Homo sapiens: one gene and its partner. The protein of the gene in region 1 interacts with the protein of each later gene in a pairwise test. Each region holds a gene or a part of one and is shown on either strand. Other genes may lie near its edges.

Region 1 (7,022 bases):
GCCCCTCTGCCCTTCCTGCTGCAGTTGGAGCCCCTGGAATTTCACTCCCATTGCTGCAACGCTGAGCAAGAAAGGAACGGACGGTCCCCACTCCCACTCCTTGGGCTGCACTGGAAAAAGGCTGAAGCATTATTCTTAGTGGCTTTCATGTATCAACGTCTTTGTTCTTTACAACCGCTCCATGAGGCAGTACTACTGTCATTTTATGGCATGGACGCTGAAAAATTGGGAGGTCACTTCTGCCTGTGTAACCCTGGGCAATCACGTAGTAATCATTCCTCATGTTATTCAGTTGCAATTATTAGCACATTATCTTTATTCAAATATATTTTTGAAGGGAAAATAATTATTGTCTCTTCCACTAGATTGTGACTCTTTCAAGGGCAATGGTAATTTATTTATTTATATTTTGAGACGGAGTTTCGCTCTTGTTGCCCAGGCTGGAGTGCAATGGCATGATCTTGGCTCACCACAACCTCCGCCTCCCAGGTTCAAGCAATTCTCCTGCTTCAGCCTCCCAAGTAGCTGGGATTACAGGCATGTGCCATCACGCCCGGCTAATTTTGTATTTTTAATAGAGACAGGGTTTCTCCATGTTGGTCAGGCTGGTCTCGAACTCCTGACCTCAGGTGATCCGCCTGCCTCGGCCTCCCAAAGTGCTGGGATTACAGGCATGAGCCATGGCGCCCAGCCAATGTTTATTTTTATAAATAGTTTTATTTCTCTTAATACTATCCATAACACATTATCAGAAACACTGTTCGTGTGAACAACCTTATAAAGACAGGATACAGTGTCGACTGTATTGCTGACCACACAGTTCTGCCACATTGTGGATCAAGAGCATTTTCATTAGCAACTCTGGAAACTTACATGCAATTTACAACAATAATTTAGGAAAACAAATTCTGAACTTACTAGTATCTTAAGAACCCAAAAGTTCTCTGAAATGGCATTACTATCAAAATTTCACCTTTTAAATTTACATATACAGTCACATCCACAGGGTCAAGGAGAGAACACATATATGAGGGTGGTCCTGTGGATTATAATGGAGCTTAAAAAATCCTATCACCTTGTGATGCCTTGATAACTCTGACCCTGAGTAGACCTAGGCTAATGTGCGTGTTTGTGTCCTAGTTTTTGTGTTTTTTTTTTTTTTTGAGACAGAGTCTTGCTCTGTCACCCAGGCTGGAGTGCATTGGCGCTATCTCGGCTCACTGCAAGCTCTGCCACCCGGGTTCACGCCATTCTCCTGCCTCAACCTCCTGAGTAACCGGGACTACAGGCGCCTGCCACCACGCCTGGCTAATTTTTTGTATTTTTAGTAGAGATGGGGTTTCACTGTGTTAGCCAGGATGGTCTCGATCTCCTGACCTTGTGATCCGCCCGCCTCGGCCTCCCAAAGTGCTGGGATTACAGGCGTGAGCCACCGTGCCCGGCCCTGTGTCCTAGTTTTTGACAAAAAAGTTTAAAAAACTAAAACAAACTTTAAAAACGAAAAAAACCTACGTTTTCTTCTAGGGTTTTTATGGTTTTAGGTCTAACGTTTAAGTCTTTAATCCATCTTGAATTGATTTTTGTATAAGGTGTAAGGAAGGGATCCAGTTTCAGCTTTCTACATATGGCTAGGCAGTTTTCCCAGCACCATTTATTAAATAGGGATTCCTTTCCCCATTGCTTGTTTTTCTCAGGTTTGTCAAAGATCAGATAGTTGTAGACAGGCAGCGTTATTTCTGAGGGCTCTGTTCTGTTCCATTGATCTATATCTCTGTTTTGGTACCAGTACCATGCTGTTTTGGTTACTGTAGCCTTGTAGTATAGTTTGAAGTCAGGTAGTGTGATGCCTCCAGCTTTGTTCTTTTGGCTTAGGATTGCTTTGGCGATGCGGGCTCTTTTTTGGTTCCATATGAACTTTAAAGTAGTTTTTTCCAATTCTGTGAAGAAAGTCATTGGTAGCTTTATGGGGATGGCATTGAATCTGTAAATTACCTTGGGCAGTATGGCCATTTTCACGATATTGATTCTTCCTACCCATGAGCATGGAATGTTCTTCCATTTGTTTGTATCCTCTTTTATTTCCTTGAGCAGTGGTTTGTAGTTCTCCTTGAAGAGGTCCTTCACATCCCTTGTAAGTTGGATTCCTAGGTATTTTATTCTCTTTGAAGCAATTGTGAATGGGAGTTCACTCATGATTTGGCTCTCTGTCTGTTGTTGGTGTATAAGAATGCTTGTGATTTTTGTACATTGATTTTGTATCCAAAAGCAATGGCAACAAAAGACAAAATTGACAAATGGATCTAATTAAACTAAAGAGCTTCTGCACAGCAAAAGAAACTACCATCAGAGTGAACAGGCAACCTACAAAATGGGAGAAAATTTTCGCAACCTACTCATCTGACAAAGGGCTAATATCCAGAATCTACAATGAACTCAGACAAATTTACAAGAAAAAAACAAACAACCCCATCAAAAAGTGGGCGAAGGACATGAACAGACACTTCTCAAAAGAAGACATTTATGCAGCCAAAAAACACATGAAAAAATGCTCATCATCACTGGCCATCAGAGAAATGCAAATCAAAACCACAATGAGATACCATCTCACACCAGTTAGAATGGCAATCATTAAAAAGTCAGGAAACAACAGGTGCTGGAGAGGATGTGGAGAAATAGGAACACTTTTACACTGTTGGTGGGACTGTAAACTAGTTCAACCATTGTGGAAGTCAGTGTGGCGATTCCTCAGGGATCTAGAACTGGAAATACCATTTGACCCAACCATCCCATTACTGGGTATATACCCAAAGGACTATAAATCATGCTGCTATAAAGACACATGCACATGTATGTTTATTGCGGCATTATTCACAATAGCAAAGACTTGGAACCAACCCAAATGTCCAACAATGATAGACTGGATTAAGAAAATGTGGCACATATACAGCATGGAATACTATGCAGCCATAAAAAATGATGAGTTCATGTCCTTTGTAGGGACATGGATGAAATTGGAAATCATCATTCTCAGTAAACTATTGCAAGAACAAAAAACCAAACACCGCATATTCTCACTCATAGGTGGGAATTGAACAATGAGATCACATGGACACAGGAAGGGGAATATCACACTCTGGGGACTGTTGTGGGGTGGGGGGAGGGGGGAGGGATAGCATCGGGAGATATACCTAATGCTAGATGAGGAGTTAGTGGGTGCAGTGCACCAGCATGGCACATGTACCCTAAAACTTAAAGTATAATTAAAAAAAAAAAAAAAAAAACGAAAAAAACCTTACAGAATACGGATATAAAAGAAAATACTGGCCAGGTGCTATGGGTCATGCTTGTAATCCCAGCACTTTGGGAGGCCAAGGCAGGCAGATCGCTTGAGCTCAGGAATTCAAGACCAGCCTGGGCAACATAGTGAGACCCCCTCTCTAAAAAAAGTACAAAAATTAGCCAGGCATGGTGGTGCATGCCTATAGTCCTAGCTACTCGAGAGGCTGAGGTGGGAGGATCACTGAGCCCAGGGAGGTCGAGGCTACGGGTGCAGTGGGCTGTGATGCACCACTCACTCCAGCCTGATAGGGCAAGACCTTGTCTCAAAAAAAAAAAAAAAAGAGAGAAAATATTTTTGTACTGCTGTTTTGTATAATGCGTTTTAAGGTAAGTGTTTTTACAAGAGCCAAAAAGTTAAAAAAAAAAAATTAAGTTTAGAAAGTAAAATGTTGACCAGATGCCATGGCTCACACCTATAATCCCAACACTTTGGAGGCCAAAGTGGGAGGACTGCTTGAGGCCAGCAGTTCAAAACCAGGCTGGCCAACACAGAATAGCAAAACCACATCTCCTAAAAAATAAAGACAGAAAGAAAGAAAGAAAGAAAAACGTTACAGTAAATTAAGGTTAATCTATTATCCAAGAAATAAAATTTTTAGAGCAACCCCCAGTCATGCAAGCTGCATTCACGGTAAATGTCCTGTACAGGTGTACTATTTTAATCTTTTATATCATATTTTTACTGCACCCTTTCTATGTTTAGATACACAAATGCTTGCCATTGTGTTACAACTGCATACAATATTCAGTACAGTAACATGCCGAACAGATTTATAACCTAAGAGAAATAAGCTATACCATGTAGCCTAGGTTTTTAGTAAGTTATGCCATCTAGGTTTGTATTAAGTACACACTGATGTTATTCACAATGAAGAAATCGTCTGATACAATAGCAATTAAAGAAATTTCTATTCCTGTCTTTTCAGCATCTCTGAAGTTGATCATAATTCAGATCACGTCTCTAATGTTAAGCAACACATGACAATATACAAAAATTTGCTGATTACCTCTAGAACAAGGTAAATAATGGAATATCCTCAGACTATTCTTGACTTCAACAAGGTTTTCCTATTTGCATCATGCTGGCTTTTGGATTGAAATAAATACACTTTTTAATTTTTTTTGAGAGAGGGTCTTGATCTGTCACCCAGACTGGAGTGCAATGGTGCAAACACAGCTCCCTGCAGCAGCCCTGACCTCCTGGGCTCAAGTGATCCTCCCACCTCAGCACCCCCAGTAGCTGGGACTACAGGTGCATCCCTGGCTAACTTTTAAATTTTTTGTAGAGACAGGGTCTCCCTGTGTTGCCCAGGCTGGTCTCAAGTGATCCTCCTGCCTCTGCCTCCCAAAGTGCTGGGATTACAGGTATGAGTGACCACGCCAGGCCAAAATGTACTTACAATGTTAACGAAATTTCTATCTATTCCTGTCTTTTCAGCATCTCTGAAGTTGATCATATCATTTCTTCCTTTTAATTTGTTGATATAGCAAATTATAAGTGAGACTGGCCTGTGTTCTCAAGTAGTGTGTGTACATGCCATCTTAGTTACATTTTCACATGCTTGCTTCACAATTAGAATTTGGAAGATTTCAAATGGACCTTTTTGGAATAACTAAATGGTACACTTTTTCTGGAAGGAGTGTACACCATTGTTCATTGTTTTACTGCTAAATCCTCCATCATACAACACGTTCAATTTTTCAAATCACTATCAAATGTTAGATCACTTAATTTTTGACAGCATTACTAACTAGAAAGTAGGACTTATCCCCATTTTGTAAATAAAGGTCTAGACCAAATGGCCCATCTATGGTCATACATATAAGGGGCAGGGCAGCTCTCCATTTCCAAGCTTTTCCTATTACACCATGCTGTCTTTTTAGTGCTCAAGATAAAGTGGTTCTGTACGCTATAGGTATGAATGAACAATTATGGTATTCAAGATTTACACTGCATTTGAATCACAGATATAGCCAATACTGTAAGAACTTATAAAACTGTTAATTTTACTAATAGTGAAGCCACTAAAGGGTTATCATTCAGAGGAAAGAATAGATTTATGCTTTCTAGAAGGAGTATTCCAGTTGCCATGTGGAAGGTGGATTGGGAGAATTATCCAGAGTGGTGTCACATAAACCAAGATACATGTGGAAGGGGCCACACTAACAAATGCTACTGGGAGATAAAGTAGCAAAGACTTAAAACCATCTACTGATTGGATTTAGTGACAAAGAAGTCACTGGGAGCCCTGGCAGTTGTGGTGGAGTGAAAATAACAGGCATGCAGTCTGCAGAAGGTTGGAGAGAATATAGGTAACTCTTTAAGCAGGTTTCATTATAGAGACCAGAGGCAGGCAAATGTAGAAAACAAGGAAGGTTTTCTTTGAAGATGGGAGTGATCTAGGAGAGGAAGACATATGCAGTGGGAGAGGCCAAAGATAAAATACAGGGAGTATCTGAATAAAATGCCCAGAGTCAGAAGAGGAGCGGGAACCCAGTCAGTGATGGAGTAGCCTTTGATAGGATGATCTCCTTTTCCATTTCAAGAGGTGGGAAAGGATGCCTGTGAATGGATGCCAGGCTAACCAAAGCGGGGCTGCTCTCTCAGTAACAGGTTATCCAGCATGATAGCCACTAGCTACATGTGGCTACCCCAAACTAAGATATGCTGGTAAAAACACACTGAATTCTGAAGACTTAATGGAGGGAAAAATGTAATCTCATTATTTTTCTTTTTTTTTGAGACGGCGTCTCACTCAGCTGCCCAGGCTGGAGTGCAGTGGTGCAATCTTGGCTCACTGCAACCACTGTCTCCTGGGTTCAAGCGATTCTCCCGTCTCAGGATTACAGGCATCAGCCATCATGCCCGGCTAATTTTTGTATTTTAGTAGAGATGGGGTTTCACCATGTTGGCCAGGCTGGTCTTGAACTCCTGACCTCAGGTGATCCGCCCACCTTGGCCTCCCAAAGTGCGAGGATTACAGGCGTGAGCCACCGTGCCCGGCCTCAATATTATTTTTCATTTTGAAAACACATGTTTAAATGATCTTAGATATACTCAGTAAATATATTAATTTCACCTGTTTCTTTTGGCCATTTTAAATGTAGCTACTAGAAAATTTAAAATTACATATATGTTTGCATTATATTTCTATTGGATGGCACTGCTCATTAATCTTTTCACTGCTGCAGAAAAGGTGAAGTAGAGTTTGACACGTTTAACAAAGCCAAGTAAATCAAGAACATAAGCACTGACAGTCCTAACTCTGAATAAGCTTGAAAGTAAGACTAAGGCTGGGTGTGGTGGCTTAGGCCTGTAATCCCAGAACTTTGGGAGGATGAGGCGGGTGGATAACCTGAGCCAGGAGTTTGAGACCAGCCTGGGCAACATGGCAAAACTCCATCTCTTGTAGAGAAAAAATATGAAATACAAAAATGCAAAAATTAGCTCGGTATGGTAGGGTGCATCTGTAGCCGCAGCTACTCCAGAGGCTGATGTGGGAGGATTGCTTGAGCCTGGGAGGCAGAGCAAGACCCGGTCTCAAAAAAAAAAAAAAAAAAAAAAAAAAACCCAAAAAATAGGATAATCTTCTACAGAGATGTACTACTTTTAAAGAACTTTATCTTTTTTGTAAAATCGATATGAATTTGGTACTTGCTCAGTACACTGAGCCTATTGTGAA
Region 2 (7,843 bases), on another chromosome or scaffold:
CTGTGCACCATAAGGCTCAGGCCACATGAAGGAGTCCTTAAGTGTAATGCACAGCTGGAAGTCACTGTTCCTTCCATGGGTAAAACTGGAGGCCGAATCGGCCGGGCAGGGTGGCTCACACCTGTAATCCCAGCACTTTGGGAGCCCAAGGTGGGAGGATCACGAGGTCAGGAGATCGAGACCATCCTGGCTAACATGGTGAAACCTTGTCTCTACTAAAATACAAAAAAAAAATAGCCAGGCGTGATGGCGAGCGCCTGTAGTCCCAGCTACTCGGGAGGCTGAGGCAGGAGAATGGCGGGAACCTGGAAGGCGGAACGTGCAGTGAGCTGAGATAGCGCCACTGCACTCCAGCCTGGGTGACAGAGTGAGGCTCCGTCTCAAAAAAAAAAAAAAAAACAAAAAACTGGAGGCCGAACCTAATGGACTCATCTGGTTCTTTCATTCTGGAAGGCTTCCAAGCCCTTCCACACCAGCCCCTTTCCTCTCTGCAGTAGAGGAAGTGGAGCCGGAGAATAAACAACTCCTGGAAGGCCACCATCTCTTGACGCTGCAGATCTTCATTTTCTTTGGAGAAAATGTATACAAAAAGCTTGTCTTATAAGATTCTGTGGTTTCAGCTCTTCTATTGCACTGGGCCATGAAGTTTTTTAAAAATCTGAATGCAAACACATCAGTAAGAGTGTTAGCTCTGTTGCTGCAGTGTGACCAGGAACCAGGCTCAGTGGCCACTGGAACCCTTCGACTCTGTCATGCATCTATGCGCTCCTCCGGTTTATGGGGGCTAAACTGCTATGGATACCAGCATTTTTGTTTTTCATTGAGATAATTTATCCAAACTTGGAAGTGACGTCAAAAGGGAAAAAAAAGGTTGCATGCTTTTTTCCCTGCTAACGCAAGTTCAGTGTTTTACAACCCCAACAATCACTTGACTTTCTAGGAGAAATAACTAAACTATTTACCACTGATTGTGGGTCACGCATTTTACAATCTGCAAAGCTAATTCTCCTTTCCATCAAGAAGAAAAGACAATCCCAAAGGCTGTGGTTTCAATGCACACAGGATATTCACCAATCTTATTATCTAATCTGGCAATCTTCTCTCAGCATTCCTGTTACCCACTCACTAAGAAAATCCTAGTTTTGTGTATTCTCTTTTGAACTGACATTCCTATCCTGCTGTATACTGCATTAATGACTGAAATATAACCTGACAAGAGCTATTTACATGAGAATTATACTTCTAACATTTTGAAAATTATACATTGATGGGTTGTAAAAATGTTTTCCAAAATCAACAGAAATACATGTTTAATACACAAAATTCAGAAAATATAAACAAGCATAAAAATACAAAAATAAAAATTTACAATCCTCTTACACAGCTCCAAGCACCATCACTATTTTTTGGTGCCTGCTGGGTCAATTGTTTTTCTAGATATAAACTCTTCTTTTTACATAAAAGGGGATAACAGTATACAAGCTGCTCCCCGGCCTGCTTCTCTTCTCTCAGCAACAGCTAATCCTCCTCTGCAACACGGTTGCAGGGACTCCACCATTTACCTACCCGGTGTCCTACCAGGCTTTTGCCCAGTTCCTCGTTATCAGAAGACATTGTGTATTGAACATCTCTGAGGCCACCTAGAGAACCTGTGCTCTTTGTATGGAAACTGGATGCTCAGGAAGAACTTCCTTAACAACCACAGCCTCCATGACGGCCAATCTGAAAGTGAGGCACAGAAGTGTTCAAGCTCAGTGGGGAGCTGTGGCCATCTCATATTCCCTCAATCACTCACACTTCCTGCACCATTGCTCTTTCCTCTCACAACCTTCCTGAAAAGTTGTATGTAAATAAAAATCAAAATACGGGAGTGAGGTAAGCAGAAGCTGGATAGTTACAGATTTCACACAGAGGGTAAACTGAAACAGGAGTCAGAAGCAGCCGCCTCGCGCCAGTCTTTCAGAGAAGAGTCACTTACAGCAGAATCTACACAGGCTGGGGAGCCCCTGGCTCCCCTCCCTACTGTCCACACCCAACCCCAACCTAGAGCAGCTGGCTATAGGGCCCAGAGCCCAGGCGGGTCCCACCTCCTGCTGACCTGACCCAGCGCCCGCTCTCTCCCCCGCACACTTTGGTGACCTTACCCAGCGTCCCTCCCCGCTCCTACAGGTTCTGACTGACCCAGCGTCCCTCCGCCTCCCACACCATGTTGAGCTGCACCTTGTCCCCTTCCGCCCCAGCTAACTCGGTGACCAGTGGAGGCCACACCCACGTGACACCTGCTGTCCTTGACAGCAGCTCCGACGGCACCTCTGTGGCTCTGCAGGAGCCGCCTCCCCGCCTCGTGGGCACACAGGTGAGCTGACCGTACTTGCCCAGCCGGTCTGAGGGAAGCGAGGTCAGGGGCGACGGCGCCGCCTCCGCCTCCGCCTGTCCCCTCCCTCCGTCCGGCATCCGCGCCGCTCAAGGACTCCAAAGTCAGCGTCGCGGTGAGGAGCCCCCCACGCCCAACCCGCGCAGGCAGGACCCCGGGCTGCGGGGCTCGAAAGTCCCCCACAAGCTGCTGTCCGGGAACCGCACGGCCCGGGGTGCCGCACGCCCACCGGAAGGCAGGGCTGGGACCGCGGACGCCAGGAGCCACCCCGGCCCCTCACCCGGGCTCCCCCTCACGTGGGCTCCCGCGCGCCCATCTGGGTTCCCCCTCAGCTGAGTTCCCGGCCCCTCACCTGGGATCCCCGGTCCCCTCACCCGGGCTTCCCAGCCCCCTCGCCTGGGCTCCACGCGCGCTCACCTGGGCTGCCCCTCACCTGGGTTCCCGGCCCCTAACCCGGGCACCCCGCGCGCTCACCTGGGCTGCCCCTCACCTGGGTTCCCGGCCCTCACCCGGGCTCCCTGAGCGCTCACCTGGGCTGCCACTCAGCCGGGCTCCCTGCGCTTGGCGCCGCCCCGCCCCTGCAGGACTCCCGGCAGTCACTGACCTCATTGCCGCCCAGTCACGACTGGCCGGCCTCAAACACCGCCCGCGCACGCGCGTTCGCACGCGCGTGCGCACGCGTTCTGCCCCCCTGGGGGCGTCGCTACGAGAGGCCCCGCCTAGGCGCTACGACGGCGGCGGGCGCGGGAGGGGCGGGGCGGCGGGCGCGGGAGGGGCGCGGCGGGGGGCGGGGCGCGGCGCGGGGGGCGGGGCGCGGCGGGGGGCGGGGCGCGGCGGGGGGCGGGGCGCGGCGGGGGGCGGGGCGCGGCGGGGGGCGGGGCGCGGCGGGGGGCGGGGCGCGGCGGGGGGCGGGGCGCGGCGGGGGGCGGGGCGCGGCGGGGGGCGGGGCGCGGCGGGGGGCGGGGCGCGGCGGGGGGCGGGGCGCGGCGGGGGGCGGGGCGCGGCGGGGGGCGGGGCGCGGCGCGGCGGGCGCTGTGGGGCGGCGGGGTGGACGCGCTGAACCACGGCCGGCGGGAGGGGCGGGGCCGGGCTGAACCATGGCGGGCGGCGGCATGGGGGCGGTGGGGCTCCGCGGGCAGCCTGGTTGCGCTGCACCCGGACGGGGCCGAGGGGACCTGAAAGCTGCGGCAGAGCCTGACCGCGCCGTTCTCCAGAAGAGCCCCGGCCGCGGCTGAGTCGCGCTCCGGGTGTGGACGGAGCCGGAGCCTCCCCGGGGCTCGGTGAGGACACAGGGCCCAAGCCCCGGACCTTCAAGTCTTGACCGAGCGCATCCCCGGCCCTTCTGCGCCCACACCTGAGTTTTTGTCTGTAGGAGTTTCCGCAGTTTGCTAAGGTTGTTATTCGAGTTACTTATGTTTCTTCTCTCTAAGGTTGTTATTCGAGTTACTTATGTTTCTTCTGTCTAATGTGTTTTGTTCCCTCTTTAGAATCGACATCTAGAGGAGTACTCACCACTTAATTGATGATCAATACACGTTCCTTGAAAGAACCGATAGCATGCGATCGATACAGAGCATCTGCACTGGGATTGTCCGCCCCGCCTGTCAGGGAGGCCTCGGGGGCTAATGGAGCTGAGGGTATAGTCGGCCTTGGACCCTCGCTTTTTTCCTTTCCTGTACTATGAAGATAACTGCCTTATCTCCCCCTCAGGACTGTTTTGGGGATTAAATAGGACGTTTAAATTACCAACGCTCTTTGAAATAAACATTTCAAAATTATTATAACCCTTTAGTACATGTGGGAAAACGTTGACATTCATGTTCAAGTTTATTTTTCTGCTGGCTCATTTAGGTTTGTTGAAGCCTTGAGTCCCTAGGATTGTCTAAGAACATGGGTAAATGTGTGTGGAGGCCTCCCTGGAGGCCAGAGAACTGCCAGCAGCCTTCATGATGTTAGGGGAACAGGAACCTAGGAGAGCCAGGGTGACATCGTTTTAAAATCAACAACCCATCTTGGCGGGCGCGGTGGCTCAAGCCTGTAATCCCAGCAGTTTGGGAGAAAAAAATTAGCCGGGTGTGGTGGTGGGCACCTGTAATCTCAGCTACTCAGGAGGCTGAAGCAGAATTGCTTGAACCCAGGAGGCAGAGGTTGCAGTGAGCTGAGATCACGCCATGGCACTCTAGCCTGGGCAACAAGAATGAAACTCTGTCTCAAAAAAATAAAAATAAAATAAAATAAACTCCATCTTAAAACCAGTGAAACCACCATTGCAAAATTATAACTGAGACAGTGAGAGATCTGACCTAACCAACTCCATCCTACTTTTAACCTCCAAACTGTCCTTGTTCATTCCTGGGTGTAGGCCAAACTAACTTTGGAAGAAACTTAGTTTATGGTTTCCCGAAACAAATCCTTTTCTTGTCTGGAGACTAGACTGCCTTTGTAGGACTAACAAATTAGCCACAAGATTAGAAATTATGGTTTAGAATTCATGCAGCTGGAGATTACAAGATTCTGACCCTCCCTAAATTGCTCCTGGGGATAACATCACTATTGAAAAACCTAACAACAGTGCTTGAGATATTTTGCAGACCTTGCACTTGCTGAATTAGCTGGGACCATCCAGATGGATAAACTGGCTCATCTGATCTTGTGGCCCGCACTCAGCAACCGGCTCAGGCCAAGAGGACAGCTTTGATCCATACGATTTCATCTCTGATCTGACCCCTCAGTGCTCCCAGCTTACTGGCCCCCTACCTACCAAATTATCCTTAAAAACTCTGAACTCCAGGGCTGGGCACGGTGGCTCACACCTGTAATCCCAGGACTCTGGGAGGCCGAGGCAGGCGGATCACTTGAGGTCAGAAGTTCAAGACCAGCCTGGCCAACATGGCAAAACCCCGTCTCTACTAAAAATACAAAAATTAGCCAGGCGTGGTGGTGCACGCCTGTAATGCCAACTACTTGGGAGCCTGAGGCAGGAGAATTGCTTGAACCCTGAAGGCGGAGGTTGCAGTGTGCTGAAATCGCACCACTGCACTCCAGCCTGGGCAACAGAGCAAGACTCCATCTCAAAAACAACAGCAAAAACTCTGAACTCCGAATTCTTGGGGAAATTGATTTGAGTAATAATAAAACTCTGGTCTCCCGCACAGCCAGCTCTGTGTGGATTATTCTTTCTCTATGCAGTTCACCTGTTTGGATAAATCAGCTCTGTGTAGGCAACATGAACCTGATTGGCAGTTACAGTAGCCTGTAATCCCAGCTACGTGGGAGGCTGAGGCAGGAGAATTGCCTGAACCTGGGAGGCGGAGGTTGCAGTGAGCCGAGATCATGCCACTGCACTCCAGCCTGGGCAACAGAGCAAGACTCCATCTCAAAAAAAAAAAAAAAAAAAAAAAAAGATGGCTATAGTCATGCTTAGATGTAGTTACGCACTGAAATGCCAAGGATAACGTTATTTACATCCACCAAGTACTAGATCTTGTCACACTGCCAGCCCACCTGCACTTACACGTAGCTTGGCTTTTACATTGATACAAGATGCCTTTGAAACAAAGATGGCACATTCTTCTTCCTGCTTTCCGCGGGCTCCCCACTCTGTATCAGAGCAGCTGTCTCTCACTGCACTCTGCGACTGCCTTGAGTTCCTCCCTGCGCAAGATCCGAGAACTCTCTCTTAGGGTCTGGACTGGACCCCTTTCTCCATCAGCACTGGGTTCCTTAGATTCCTACTAACAGCATGCTGAGGCCTGTCTTAACAAAGAATGAAGTGAGGCTTAGAAAGATGGAACCATAACTTGCTCAGTCACGTGGCTAGTAAGCTCTTCAGCTTGAATTTAAACATTCCAGGACTGTGTCTTTCCACTCGGCCATCTTTAAAGCAGAGTGATAAAATAGTTTTGTTTTCTAAAAAACCATCACAGGCATAACTGATCACAGGTATAACCAGTATCCATGCGGGGTGTGGAACACTGAATGAAACCCGGGCGGATTCCCAGCTTGCTCCGTCTCAGCTTGGGCACTGCTGTTTACAGCCTGTGTACTCCCCTCCCGCCCTGCCACCCACAAGTGTCTCACCTCCTTCCTCGACAGATCGAATGACACAACAAACATTTATCTTGGGTGCACAGCGTGTCAGGCGTCAGGCTAAGCACTTTGATAAACTGGTTCTTTCAAACATCACAGGTGTCTGACGCAGGCACCATTATCCACGTCATAGAAAAAAAACAGTGTTCAGTGAGCCTGAGGTTAGCAATGTGTGCACCTCCACACACTGCTAAATGACAAAGCTGAATTTTGAAGTACGATGCCATGAGGTGTCTGGAGTAGACAACCAAAATGACTTAATTGAGGTGTCAGGGGACTGTCTTACTTTCTGGTCACACAAGCAATATACGCTCATTGTGAGGTTTGGTTGTTCCATTACAAAAAAGACTGTTTTAAAAGCCATTAGCGGAGGGATGGGAGGAGTTCTCTTCTGCCTGTTTCTTCCTCCTAAACAGCAAAATGACGGTGTCCTCAAAGGGATGTATAATGAGCGAGAGGCGAAAAAGAACGTCTGTGATTTTAAATCCAGTGTCCTTCACCAGTGAGCAATAGTAGTTCTGTGAGTGGGAGAGCAGGACCGCGGTGCTTGCAAACAACACTTTAAAACACTGGAACCCAAGTTCAGGATCTGCTGACAGCACATCTGCAGGAAGCATGAGGGTCTCTGGACTCCCGCAGATCAGCTGCTCAGCTTCTCAGCCTCAATGTGGCAAAGACTCTACCTGACCTAACTCCAGGCAGGGTCCTCGAAGCCCTCAAGGCTCTGACCTGGACCCCTGTCCCCTTTCGTCCAAAAGAATCCTGCTGGGTCAATGCAGTGACAGTTCCCCGCCCCTGATATCATACTCCTCATCCCTCACCCTCGGTATCTTATCACCTGGCCTGCCTGTGGCACGAATCCTACCAAGTGGTTCTAGCAAGAACCCCCCTGGCCTGATGTAGCCTCTTCATAGTTTTCCGTCCGTTCTCACCCTCTCCGTGGCTGTACATTCCCGTTTTTCTTCTTACACTCAGAGTTGAGCCTAGTCCCACTGCAGTGGCCCCTGCACCTATCGCGATTCCTTTGAGACTGTAAAACAAAAATAAAATTCTAGTCCCCCGCCAACCCCGTTAGCCACGAGCTTTCCAAAGTAAACCTTAGAGACTAGTTCAGACCGTGATGGGAAGTGGGGGTGGGACAGGCTCCTTATACCCGCCTTCCGTTGAAATCCAGGCACAGCTGACCTGCATTAACGTCAAAGCAGAGATCTTAAGGTTGACAAAACAGACTCTGTAGCAATAAGATACTACATTCCAACCTGACTCTAGTATAGCATCACATGATAGAGAGCAGGCCCTGGAAGAAATCAAGCATTTTACCCCAGAATATATTTCTTTGACATATTTTGAAGGGGCCCCACACGGCTGTCTCTTGAGGGG

What was found. The genes of interacting proteins can lie anywhere in the genome.
Region 2: the proteins of PDIA6 (region 1) and CLN8 interact in a two-hybrid assay, tested with the Homo sapiens proteins (one study listed by BioGRID).

What each region holds. Positions count from the first base shown.
Region 1 is NC_000002.12:10,802,764-10,809,785, forward strand, and holds part of PDIA6 (protein disulfide-isomerase A6 isoform d precursor), read right to left. Parts: intron 1-7,022. UniProt on the Homo sapiens protein: May function as a chaperone that inhibits aggregation of misfolded proteins. Negatively regulates the unfolded protein response (UPR) through binding to UPR sensors such as ERN1, which in turn inactivates ERN1 signaling.
Region 2 is NC_000008.11:1,758,947-1,766,789, reverse strand, and holds the start of CLN8 (protein CLN8), read right to left. Parts: upstream 3,002-7,843; 5' UTR 2,905-3,001; exon of another isoform or gene 2,792-2,904; intron 2,357-2,791; exon of another isoform or gene 2,206-2,356; intron 1-2,205. UniProt on the Homo sapiens protein: Could play a role in cell proliferation during neuronal differentiation and in protection against cell death.